Regions from separate parts of the Homo sapiens genome. Here region 2 is linked to region 1. Evidence: fine-mapped expression QTL. A gene starts in region 1. The other region holds a variant in brackets. All regions are shown on one strand. Distances are between the middles of the regions.

Region 1 (5,358 bases):
CCTGTCACTTGGGGATGCCCTGCCACTTGACCACCAGGCAGCAGCAAAGTGTTCCAGCCAATGGCAGAAGCATCATAGCCATTGGCCAAAGAGCCATGCCTTCCAGCTAGAAGTCCAGAAAGGCTCGGGCGGAGTCTGACCTCTCCCTGTCTGTGTGTCCCTGGCCGGCACTCATCAGTCCAAGCCAGGGGCTAGGAGAGGGTGCCCACAAGGACCAGAGCCCCGAGGATAGCTCAGCTGATCTGTGTGGCACCTGGATCTGCAAGCACAGGCACGGTCGGGACTTTTCTGTCTTCTCTCTAGCGCTTATCAACGGGTCGGGACTTTTCTGTCTTCTCTCTAGCGCTTATCAACATCTGAAATCATCTTATTTGGGGGCTCTTGTAAGCACGCAGAAAGCGGCTTCGATGGACCTTCCTCCAGGGAGCTTTCCCTGATGCCCTAAGGCTACTGAGCTGGGACCCTAAGGCCCTACTTACCCCCTTCCCTAGGTTATCACTGCATTGCTCCCTCCTCAACCCCTGAGCCCGAGAGGAGGGGCCAAGTCAGTGTGGTCCAATACTGTCACCCTAGGACCCAGCACAGTACCTGGCCCAGAGCTGGCACATAAGGAACATTTCCTGAGTGAACAAGCACATCAGAAAATGAAAAAAGATCTGGAGACTAGGGAGGCCTCGGTCCAAATCCACCATCCACTCTTCTTGAGATGGCTTCATGGCCTCATCTGAAATTCACAGAACGGAGGTACCTACTTTCCGTGACTGTTGGAAAGATTAGGGGACAGGAGGTGTGTGAGCTGCTCACAGTAGCTAGTGCCACACAGCACGCCTGCCCCTTCACCCCACTGGCCCCTCAGGTCAGAGTTCAAGGCTGGTGTCCCTGGGAGGTCACGGGTGGACCCCTGCAGCTCCCAGCAGTAGTTCCTCCTGGGCTTCAGCTGTGGCAGCAAGCCAATCTCCTGAGAGCATGGACCTCCCTCACAGATGGCAACATCACCACCAGGGCTGAGCTGAACCTCTCTGCCACCCGGTCCCTGTGCCAGGTGTTCCTTTGGGCTTTGGCAAAAGACCCAGAGAGCGCTCCAGATGGACTTCCCTGACCTTACTGTACAGATGCAGGCACCTTCCTTCAGGAGGTCGCAAAGGCTCTGCCTTGTGCCCTGACTTCCCTGTGAAGCCACCAATCAAAGGAGCCAAGTGTGAGGCAGGATGCAATATGTACACGCCTCCCGCTCTCCCATCACCCTTTCATGGTTCCATGGAAAGAAAGAACATCCACACCCCACATCTTATGCCTGCTGAGGCTTCTGTCTTTGGCATATTTCTGTTGGACCATGTGTCAATGGTGGCTGCATGTTTTCCTATGGCGTCCAAATCAGTGGGATTCAAGACCTGGGGTTCCTCTGTAAGGGTTCTCACACCCAGGACGGTCAGTCTCAGGGCAAGGCACTGCCCAGCTACCCACCGTTCACTGTCCCCTACTCCCACCCCAACGCACACACAGGCACACACACAGGGGAGGTCAGGGAGGAGGCACACATGTCTTCACCAAGAGCCTACAGGAGCCCAGTTGCTGGAGCCATCAGAGCCTCTGGAAAGCCACTATATACTGCCGTCCTTTCAGCAGCAAGGTGGGAGAAGTCAGCATCGTCAAGAGAATTTCATTAGGCACAAGCAGTCTCCCCCAGAGGTCAGAAGGAGAAAACATGGCAAGTAGAGATGTCCCTGGGGAGTGGCCGCAAAGTCACGGAGTTCTGGAAGGTCAGAGTTGACAGGATCCTTTGAGAACATGAAGTCTCCTCCCCTCTGGGTTCCAAAGGGGAAACTAGAACCCAGAGAGAGGAGGAAATGGCCTAAGGCCACGCAGTGGCTCAGTGTGGGAGCATGGCCTAGAGGTCAAACCTCTTACCCATCAGGGCCAGGTGCTGGCTGGCAGCTGCTTCAGATGGTTTCCAGCCCACCTAGGACCTAAATTAACCTCTTCTTAAATAAGTGTAAGGAAAGAAGACTCGGACCTGAATACGCAAGACCGCACACGGAGAAGAGCAGAAGCAAAACCCCCGCAGCCTCAGAAACCCTAGCTCCTTCCCATTCCAGGCGCCTCGAGGGGAAGGCATCTGGGGCTCTAAGACTGGGGGACTATGGGGGATGACTGGCAAAGTCCGGTTCTTTGCCACCGGGATAGGTGGCAAAGCGGTCCACGAGAGAGGAAACCGTGGAGAAATTTGAGTCCCGGAACCGGATTCCCGAAGCGGTTTGAGAAAGGCGGGCCGGGATACGTGAGTGACTGCCTCAGAAGGGCTCCTTCAAGGACACTAAGGAGGTGACAGCCGCCGTGGCCCACTCTCCCGGCCCGTCCGGAGGGCCCCCCGCCACCCGATGCAGACCCCCTGGGGGAGCCGGTCCAGGGCCAACTTCGGCCAATCCCCTCAGTGACAGCGGAGGCGGCCAATCAACCCCGGCGCGAAGCCCTTTCCCCGCCCCTGGTGGGGCCCCTAGCCAATCGGACTCCAGACTGCTTCGGGTGCGGCTACCCCACCGCTCCCCTGCGACCGCTGCCGCGGTCCCGTGGCTCTTTCCCTGCTCACCTCCCAGGGACGGCAGAGAAGGGCTGGCCCGAGCACCGCCTTCGCGGCGCTGCCGGCGACGGTCGCTACCTTCAGCGCCATGACGGAAAGTGAGAGCCTCCGCACGTCCCGACACGCAGATACCGCTCTCGCGAGAGTTCGACGGGGTGCGAAGTTTCGGGGACAGGCGCGGACCCGGTACTGCGCACGCGCGCGGTCGCACCGATTCACGCCCCCTTCCGGCGCCTAGAGCACCGCTGCCGCCATGTTGAGGGGGGGACCGCGACCAGCTGGGCCCCTGGCTCAGGGAGGGGCCACGTCAGTGCTGCCAGAGACGTCACAATGCCGGCCCAGCCGTTCGGTGCGCGATTGGCTGCCGCTGCCACTTACGCGTCGCTCTTCCTCGTTTGCCCCTCGTGTTCATGGGAGCTCGTTTTCTTTTCCTCTAGGCAGAGAAGAGGCGATGGCGGCGATGGCATCTCTCGGCGCCCTGGCGCTGCTCCTGCTGTCCAGCCTCTCCCGCTGCTCAGGTAGCGGCCCAGCCGGGGCTTCTTTCTTGCGAGCCTCTGACCCACGGCAGGTGGTGTTGGGGGCAGGAGGGATGCGGGGGTCCGGCCTTTCAGGGTCCGTCGCTGCGGGCCGGGCCTTCCCCCGAGAGGCAGGCGGCCTTGGGACGGGGGGACCAAAGCACCTCGCGCACGTTTACCGGCAGCCAGGCTTTTCCTTGTCTGCCCATACGAAGAGGAGTCCCCGAGCCTCCATGGTGCGCCCGGCCCCCAAGCTGCAGCACGGAACGTGACACATGTCCCGGCTCCCGCTCCCTGCGGGGTCGGACCGGAGCGAAGCTCTGTAGCGCTGAGCGATCGCGGCCAAAAACGGGGCTGGAGGAGCCACATAAGCTAGGAAGGGACCTCAGTGAGGAGAGGGAGCAAGAGCGGGGCGAGTTAGATGGGGAGCCAAAGGTGCGCAGGGCCTTGAGTGCCAGGCCGAAGACTGGCTTTTCCGGAGGGCCCTGCCTTACCCTTACCAGAGTTTTCGGCAGAGCCGACCAGGGGTCCCGTCGATTTGCATTCGTGAGGGGCTGAGGTCTGAACTCCAGAGTGTGTTTAGGAGGTGGCTGCAGCAGCCAGCCCCGGGCCCGGGGGCCAGGACTGGACAGGGGCGGCTTTCTCCACATTCCCTTTTCTGCCGTCCTTCAGGCCAGTAGCCTTGCTGCCTGCAACGTTTTGGCAGCCTAACTGGCCTCCCTTTCCGCACACTCCTCATCTGCCCCTCAGGAATTCCCTGAACTATAGTCAGGGACGTATCCAGAGGACAAGCCTGGCCATAAAACCCTTCGGGGGCTCCCCTGCGCCACAGGAAGCAGGCCCAACTTAGGCAGGACACAGAAGGGCTGGCGGGATCTAGCCCCTGAGAACTGCCTCCACGCTGTTCCTAGGGATCTGCCTCCTGTGGTCCAGACCCAGAGCCTTCTCTGACGTCCTCTGCTGAAGCCATCGTTCTGCCAGGGCACCACATTTGGACAGCGGGTGGCTGAGAACATTCCCACTTTGGGGAGCCTTTGTTTCACACCCTCTGATGTAGGCGGCAGCCTTCCTTTCCTTTGGGCCTCTGGTTATGGAGAAGGCTAAGGCAAGGTCCTTTCTCTCACAGCTAACAAGTTGTGCTTCTGGAACCAGAGTCTCTCCCGTTTACTTCTTCAGGAAACGCTGGGGCCAGTCTTCACCTTCTGTCAACTGGCCGGGGGCAGAGACCCTTTCTCTCATCTTGAAAGCCCCAGTGCATTGCCTGCCTGCAGCCCCCACCCCCGATGTCTCTGCTGAGGATGCCTTCAGTAACTCGTCCAGGCCGTTTGTGGCTCTGAATTGAGGCTGGCGTGGCCCCCGGGCCTCCGTGTCATAGGTCCAAGTGTTGGCATGTATTGTCCAGTGAATCCAGCCCCCACCTGTCCCCAGTTCGCTCTTCCTGCACACCTCCAGAAAGCCGGCCTTGCCCCTCCCCAGCCTTCCTTCACAGCCATCCCGCCTACGTTGCCATTGCATTTGTGACCGAGCACTTGGATCTGTCTCGCATATCCCACCTGGAAGGGGCAGGAAGAGCGCATGGGTCCCCAGCTGATCCGTGCTATGAGGCAGGGCCGGGCCATCCTGCCCTCAGACCGGGATACTCGAGCTGGCCTTACCCAGGCATCTCTCCCTCTTCCCCGCAGCCGAGGCCTGCCTGGAGCCCCAGATCACCCCTTCCTACTACACCACTTCTGACGCTGTCATTTCCACTGAGACCGTCTTCATTGTGGAGATCTCCCTGACATGCAAGAACAGGGTCCAGGTGAGACAGTGGGGTTTCAGACAGGAGGGCGGGTGGGGGGTGCTCCTCACTGCTAGTTGATGGGGGACCTGTGTCGATAGAGGGAGAATCAAGATTCCAACTCTTGGGGTGCCGGAGAGATCAGGGCACGGTGATGCCAGATCCTAGCCAGTGTTGACAGGTCACCTTCCTCACCTGCTTTGTGTGCTGTGCCTACACGAGGTAACCCTGGGCTCACCACCCGCTGTTTCCTGAATGAGTATCTGGACCGGGAGAAAGGGCCAGGAGTCAGCCCACCCCGGTTGCCATTGGCCAGTTTGTCTGTGTGGGTGTTTTGTTTTTGTTTTTGTTTTTTGTTTGTTTTTTTGAGATAGGGTCTCACTCTGTTGCCTCAGCTGGAGTGCATTGGCACGATCTTGGCTCACTGCAGCCTCCACCTCCCGGGTTCAAGCGATTCTCCTCTCAGTCTCCTAAGTAGCTGGGAT
Region 2 (5,337 bases), 22 kb before region 1:
GTAGCCCTAGGCGTGCCGGGAGGCCAACCCTGCCTGTTGGAGAGACTCAGGGCCACCACGGAGGTCACCCATCCTGCCCCATCTCACTGAGCCGTCAATCTGGTTGGCACCCCCCTTTTCCGACACCACCCGGCCTGTGGACTCCTCATCCCAGCAGCCCCAGCCAGGGTCCAGAACCCCACACAGCTGTCCTCCAGCCGGTGCTCCACACGGCAGCCCCTGGAATCCTTTAAGGCAGCCCTGAGTCACTGTGCGTCCCTCAGCCCAGCCGCACCTGCCTCTCAGGGCTGGAGCCCACGCCTTGGCCATGAGGCCCTGCCTGCTTGGCCCCTTTCTCTCTGGACACAGTCCCCTTCACGCCTCCTGCTCATTGCACCCCACTGCACTCCAGCTGGGCCGGCCTCCCCAGGCCCCTGTTGCCGGTCATCCTTGGAGTCTAGGACCCCCACGGTGACCTGATGGACCCCTGCCTGGCAGGTGTACCCGGAAGGGCCAGTGCGGGCGGGCAGGCCAGCTGAACCAGTGGCTGTGGAGTTATGAGGAGGACAGCCACTGCCTGCACATCCAGAGCCTGCTGCCGGGCCACCACCCCCGCCAGGAGCAGGGCCAGGTAAGCCGCCCACCACCACTGGGCCCTCTGGGCAGCATGACCACTGCCTGGAGCATGAACCCCGCCTGCCTCCCGTCCTCCTTCCTCTCCCATGGCCTCTGCTGCCCCCTCTCTCTGGCTACATCTCCCGGTTTCTCCCCGCTGCATCCCAGGTCACTTTGTCTGTCCCCCGGCTGCCCATCCTGGATGCAGATGAATACTTCCATTGTGCGTTCGGGGACTATGACAGCTTGGCTCATGTGGAAGGGCCCCACGTGGCCTGTGTCACCCCTCCCCAAGACCAGGTGCCACTTAACCCTCCAGGCACAGGTGAGTGGCCCATGGGGTAGGGGGCTGGGATGGAGGCTGGAGGGGTAATGAGCCACCTGACCTGTCCTGCCCCCACTGTCCCCTCCCAGACCACGTCACTGTGCCCCTGGCCCTGATGTTCGAGGACGTGACTGTGGCTGCCACCAACTTCTCCTTTTATGACTGCAGTGCCGTCCAGGCCTTGGAGGCGGCTGCCCCGTGAGTCCCTGGGCCTGCCTCCTGGGGTAGGGGTGGCGACCCCAGAGGGCACTCAGTTGAGCAGCCACCCTGCCCCTCTAGGTGTCGCGCTTGCGTGGGCAGCATCTGGCGGTGTCACTGGTGCCCGCAGAGTAGCCACTGCGTGTACGGAGAGCACTGCCCAGAGGGCGAGAGGACCATCTACAGCGCCCAGGAGGTGGGTGGGCCCGAACTTCGGGCAGAGACAGGGCTGTCCCTTCTCCACCCTTCCCAGACCCGCCCAGCAGTAGGCCCTTTGAGTTCTGAAGGGCTGAGGGCTCTTGTTTTCCCAGGTGGACATCCAGGTGCGTGGCCCAGGGGCTTGCCCACAGGTCGAAGGCCTGGCAGGTCCCCACCTGGTGCCTGTGGGCTGGGAGAGCCATTTGGCCCTACGCGTGCGGAACCTTCAACATTTCCGAGTGAGCCATCAGGAGGGAAGGGGACAGGGCAGTGAGGTCTGCCAACAGCGTGTCCACACTCCTGACAGCGTCCTTCCCCAGGGCCTGCCTGCCTCCTTCCACTGCTGGCTGGAGCTGCCTGGAGAACTTCGGGGACTGCCGGCCACCCTGGAGGAGACAGCAGGGGATTCAGGCCTCATCCACTGCCAGGCCCACCAGGTGAGTGGCTGCCTTCCAAACCCTCTTGCCCCCAAGCTTCCGTAGACCCTCAGGGGTCTGCCATCTTTGTGGAGAGCCTGCTTGGGGCCCATAACCTCTGTCTGTGGGCCCCAGTCTTGGGGGAGAGGCAGGGAACAATCACATTCATTCTGGGGGGTGGCCCAGAGGAGACAAGAGTCAGAGGTGCCCTGAGTGGGCACCCAGCCTGACCCCACACTCTGCCCACAGTTTTATCCCTCCATGTCCCAGCGGGAGCTCCCAGTGCCCATCTACGTCACCCAGGGTGAAGCCCAGAGGCTGGACAACACCCATGCTCTTTATGGTGAGCCTGAGGGCAGCCAGGCAGGCGGGGCAGGGTGGGTGGCAGACAGGAGGCGCTCAGCACACTGCCTGACCCTCCCTAGTGATCCTGTACGACTGCGCCATGGGCCACCCGGACTGCAGCCACTGCCAAGCGGCCAACAGGAGCCTGGGCTGCCTGTGGTGTGCTGACGGCCAGCCTGCCTGTCGCTATGGGCCCTTGTGCCCGCCGGGGGCTGTGGAGCTGCTGTGTCCTGCGCCCAGCATTGATGCAGTGAGTCTCCTGCCGGGCCCCCACAGCCCAGTGGCCCACTTCTCCTGCCCCGCACTGTCCTGTCCTCCGTGATCAGACCAGCCCTGCCCCAGGCCCCCAAACCCCAGCAGCTCGGCCTGGCTGGGCTGGTTGGCTGGCCGGGCACCCAGCACTGCAGAGTGGAGCGTGGGTGCGGGGGACCCCATCTGCCATCATTTGCCTGCTGCAGGTCGAGCCCCTGACCGGTCCCCCTGAGGGAGGCTTGGCCCTCACCATCCTGGGCTCCAACCTGGGCCGGGCCTTCGCCGATGTGCAGTACGCCGTGAGCGTGGCCAGCCGGCCCTGCAACCCTGAGCCCTCTCTCTACCGCACGTCGGCCCGGTGAGGCACTTGGAGGGTGAAGATGGGTGGGGAGGCCCTCAGAGATGGCCACCCAGAGATAAGGAAGGCCTGTGGCCAAGAAACCTGGGGCACTCGGGTCAGGGGAGGGGTGGGCTGTCCCCTCCGTCCCTGAGCCCTGAGCAGCTCCCAGGCCTCGGCTTTCCAGGATTGTGTGTGTGACATCTCCTGCCCCCAATGGCACCACTGGGCCCGTCCGGGTGGCCATTAAGAGCCAGCCACCAGGCATCTCAAGCCAGCACTTCACCTACCAGGTCAGTGGCCTCCCAGGTGTGCCCTACGCAGGGGAGGGTAGGAGGGAGGGCCAGGAAGGACAGGCGCCTAGTAAGGATGTCAAGCTGGGTCTGCGGGGAGCAGGAAGCACCGCTGCATGTCTAGGAGGGAAGCCATGGCATGTGAGTGGAGGTGGGCAGCCAGGCCAGTCTGAGGCACGAAGCTCTCAGGATCTGTTGCCCTGGGCACTTGGTGGCACCGTTTCCTGGGTGGGAAGCCTGGGACAGGAGCAGTGAG[G/C]GCAGGGGTGGGTTCTGCCCAAAGAGGCAACTGGATTTGAGAGTTTAGAGCTCCAGGTCTGGGGGCTGTAAGCTGTGGTGGGGAGGAGGCTGTCCCAAGGGGGACAGAGTGGCAGTGAGGATGAAAGAGCCCCACTTCTACTCCCCATGCGGCAGGGGTGGGTGGGAGGAAGCTGGCCAGTGTGCAGTGGCCTCGGGAAGGAGGGCGTGGTCCACTTTGGCCCCAGGAGGTGAAGTCCAGAGATGACCTGCGCTTCAGAACCGGAGGGCCTTGGGCATGGCCCAGGGGGGTGAAAGGGCCAGGCTGGGCTGCCGTGCCTACCCAGCCTGCGCTGTTCGCCAGGACCCTGTCCTGCTGAGCCTGAGTCCTCGCTGGGGCCCCCAGGCAGGGGGCACCCAGCTCACCATCCGAGGTCAGCACCTCCAGACAGGTGGCAACACCAGTGCCTTCGTGGGTGGCCAACCCTGTCCCATGTGAGTCCCGGCCTGGCTGCCGTCGGGTGGTGGGCACTCCCATAGGCCTCAGTGGGGGTGGTACATTTAGAGAAGTGGTTGCTGTGGCCACCCCCAGTGGTCCCTGCCCTTGTCAAGGCAGGCAAAGCAGGGCTTCTCCTACGGGGGTTGGGCCAGGGCTGGGGTAGAGGGGTGGTAGAGCCGAGATGAGAGACCCCACTACCCATCCTGCAGCCTGGAGCCAGTGTGTCCGGAGGCCATCGTGTGCCGTACCAGGCCCCAGGCTGCCCCAGGAGAAGCAGCGGTCCTTGTGGTCTTTGGCCATGCCCAGCGCACACTGCTCGCCAGCCCCTTCCGCTACACCGCCAACCCCCAGCTTGTAGCGGCGGAGCCCAGTGCCAGCTTCCGGGGGTGAGGGTCAGCCCGCAGGCCAGCCTGTGCACCACGCAGGAGGGAAGGTGGGATGCGGGCTGGGCTATGTTGCCCACCGCCCGCCCACACCCGACTGCCATCCTGGTACAGGGGTGGGCGACTGATCCGTGTCAGGGGCACCGGCCTAGACGTGGTGCAGCGGCCCCTACTGTCTGTGTGGCTGGAGGCTGACGCAGAGGTGCAGGCTTCCAGGGCCCAGCCCCAGGACCCACAGCCAAGGAGGAGCTGTGGAGCCCCTGCTGCGGACCCCCAGGCTTGTATCCAGCTCGGTGGGGGGCTGCTGCAGGTGAGCCCCTCACCAGCAGGCGACAAGGCTGTCCCCGACCATGCCCATGCCCAGTGGGGAGGAGGAGGGTAGGCCGCCATGCCCCTAGCAGCGCACAGCAGAGCCCAGCTCACTCCACCTGTGGTCGGCCCTGAATGCCCCACAGTGCTCCACCGTCTGCTCCGTCAACTCGTCCAGCCTCCTCCTGTGCCGGAGCCCTGCTGTACCAGACAGAGCCCACCCGCAGCGGGTCTTCTTCACCCTAGACAACGTGCAAGTGGACTTCGCCAGTGCCAGTGGGGGCCAGGGCTTCCTGTACCAGCCCAACCCCCGCCTGGCACCCCTCAGCCGCGAGGGGCCTGCCCGCCCCTACCGCCTCAAGCCAGGCCATGTCCTGGATGTGGAGGTGAGGGCCACCTTCAACCCTGCCCCGCCACGGTGCTCAGGCCGCCTCTGTGGGGGCCAGCGGCTTAGGCTCCCATGTGTGTCCCAGGGCGAGGGCCTCAACCTGGGCATCAGCAAGGAGGAGGTGCGCGTGCACATCGGCCGCGGCGAGTGCCTGGTGAAGACGCTCACGCGCACCCACCTGTACTGCGAGCCGCCTGCGCACGCCCCGCAGCCTGCCAATGGCTCCGGCCTGCCACAGTTCGTGGTGAGTCCGTGCCCTGGGTGGGCAGGTGGACCGGGTGCCGCCAGCATGCACTCAGGAACCCTGCCCGCCCCCCAGGTGCAGATGGGCAATGTGCAGCTGGCCCTGGGCCCTGTGCAGTACGAGGCTGAACCCCCGCTGTCTGCCTTTCCCGTGGAGGCCCAGGCAGGCGTGGGCATGGGTGCTGCAGTGCTGATTGCCGCCGTGCTCCTCCTCACCCTCATGTACAGGTGAGACCCGCCCACCCCCAGCACACTTCCCTCCTCGCCATTGGCAAGGGCGCCCTGGCAGGCGGCTGGCCTGGCCCCGGCCCTGGCTGATGCTG

What was found. PIP is the estimated chance that this variant, and not a neighbour inherited with it, causes the effect. A credible set is the group of variants that fine-mapping cannot tell apart.
Region 2: its variant is the best candidate, but not a certain one, in a credible set for the expression of IDH3G in lung (TOPMed, PIP 0.53).

Annotation. Positions count from the first base shown.
Region 1 is chrX:153,791,659-153,797,016 of GRCh38, forward strand. IDH3G (isocitrate dehydrogenase (NAD(+)) 3 non-catalytic subunit gamma) reads right to left here and starts at 2,717. Exons shown (of 13, transcript NM_004135.4): 1 at 2,588-2,717. The coding sequence starts at 2,668. It overlaps SSR4 (signal sequence receptor subunit 4), which reads left to right and starts at 3,010. Exons shown (of 6, transcript NM_006280.3): 1 at 3,010-3,096; 2 at 4,776-4,894. The coding sequence starts at 3,030. RefSeq lists enhancers at 2,080-2,807, 2,707-2,966 and a silencer at 2,267-2,416.
Region 2 is chrX:153,769,330-153,774,666 of GRCh38, forward strand. PLXNB3 (plexin B3) reads left to right here. Exons shown (of 36, transcript NM_005393.3): 7 at 478-610; 8 at 763-919; 9 at 1,009-1,117; 10 at 1,199-1,313; 11 at 1,429-1,554; 12 at 1,636-1,752; 13 at 1,981-2,074; 14 at 2,157-2,326; 15 at 2,535-2,686; 16 at 2,853-2,958; 17 at 3,557-3,687; 18 at 3,901-4,077; 19 at 4,189-4,384; 20 at 4,530-4,769; 2 more. Among named protein-coding and RNA genes, the nearest start is that of PLXNB3-AS1, 5.5 kb to the left of the region's middle. The variant G/C (reference allele first, on the strand shown) is at 3,215.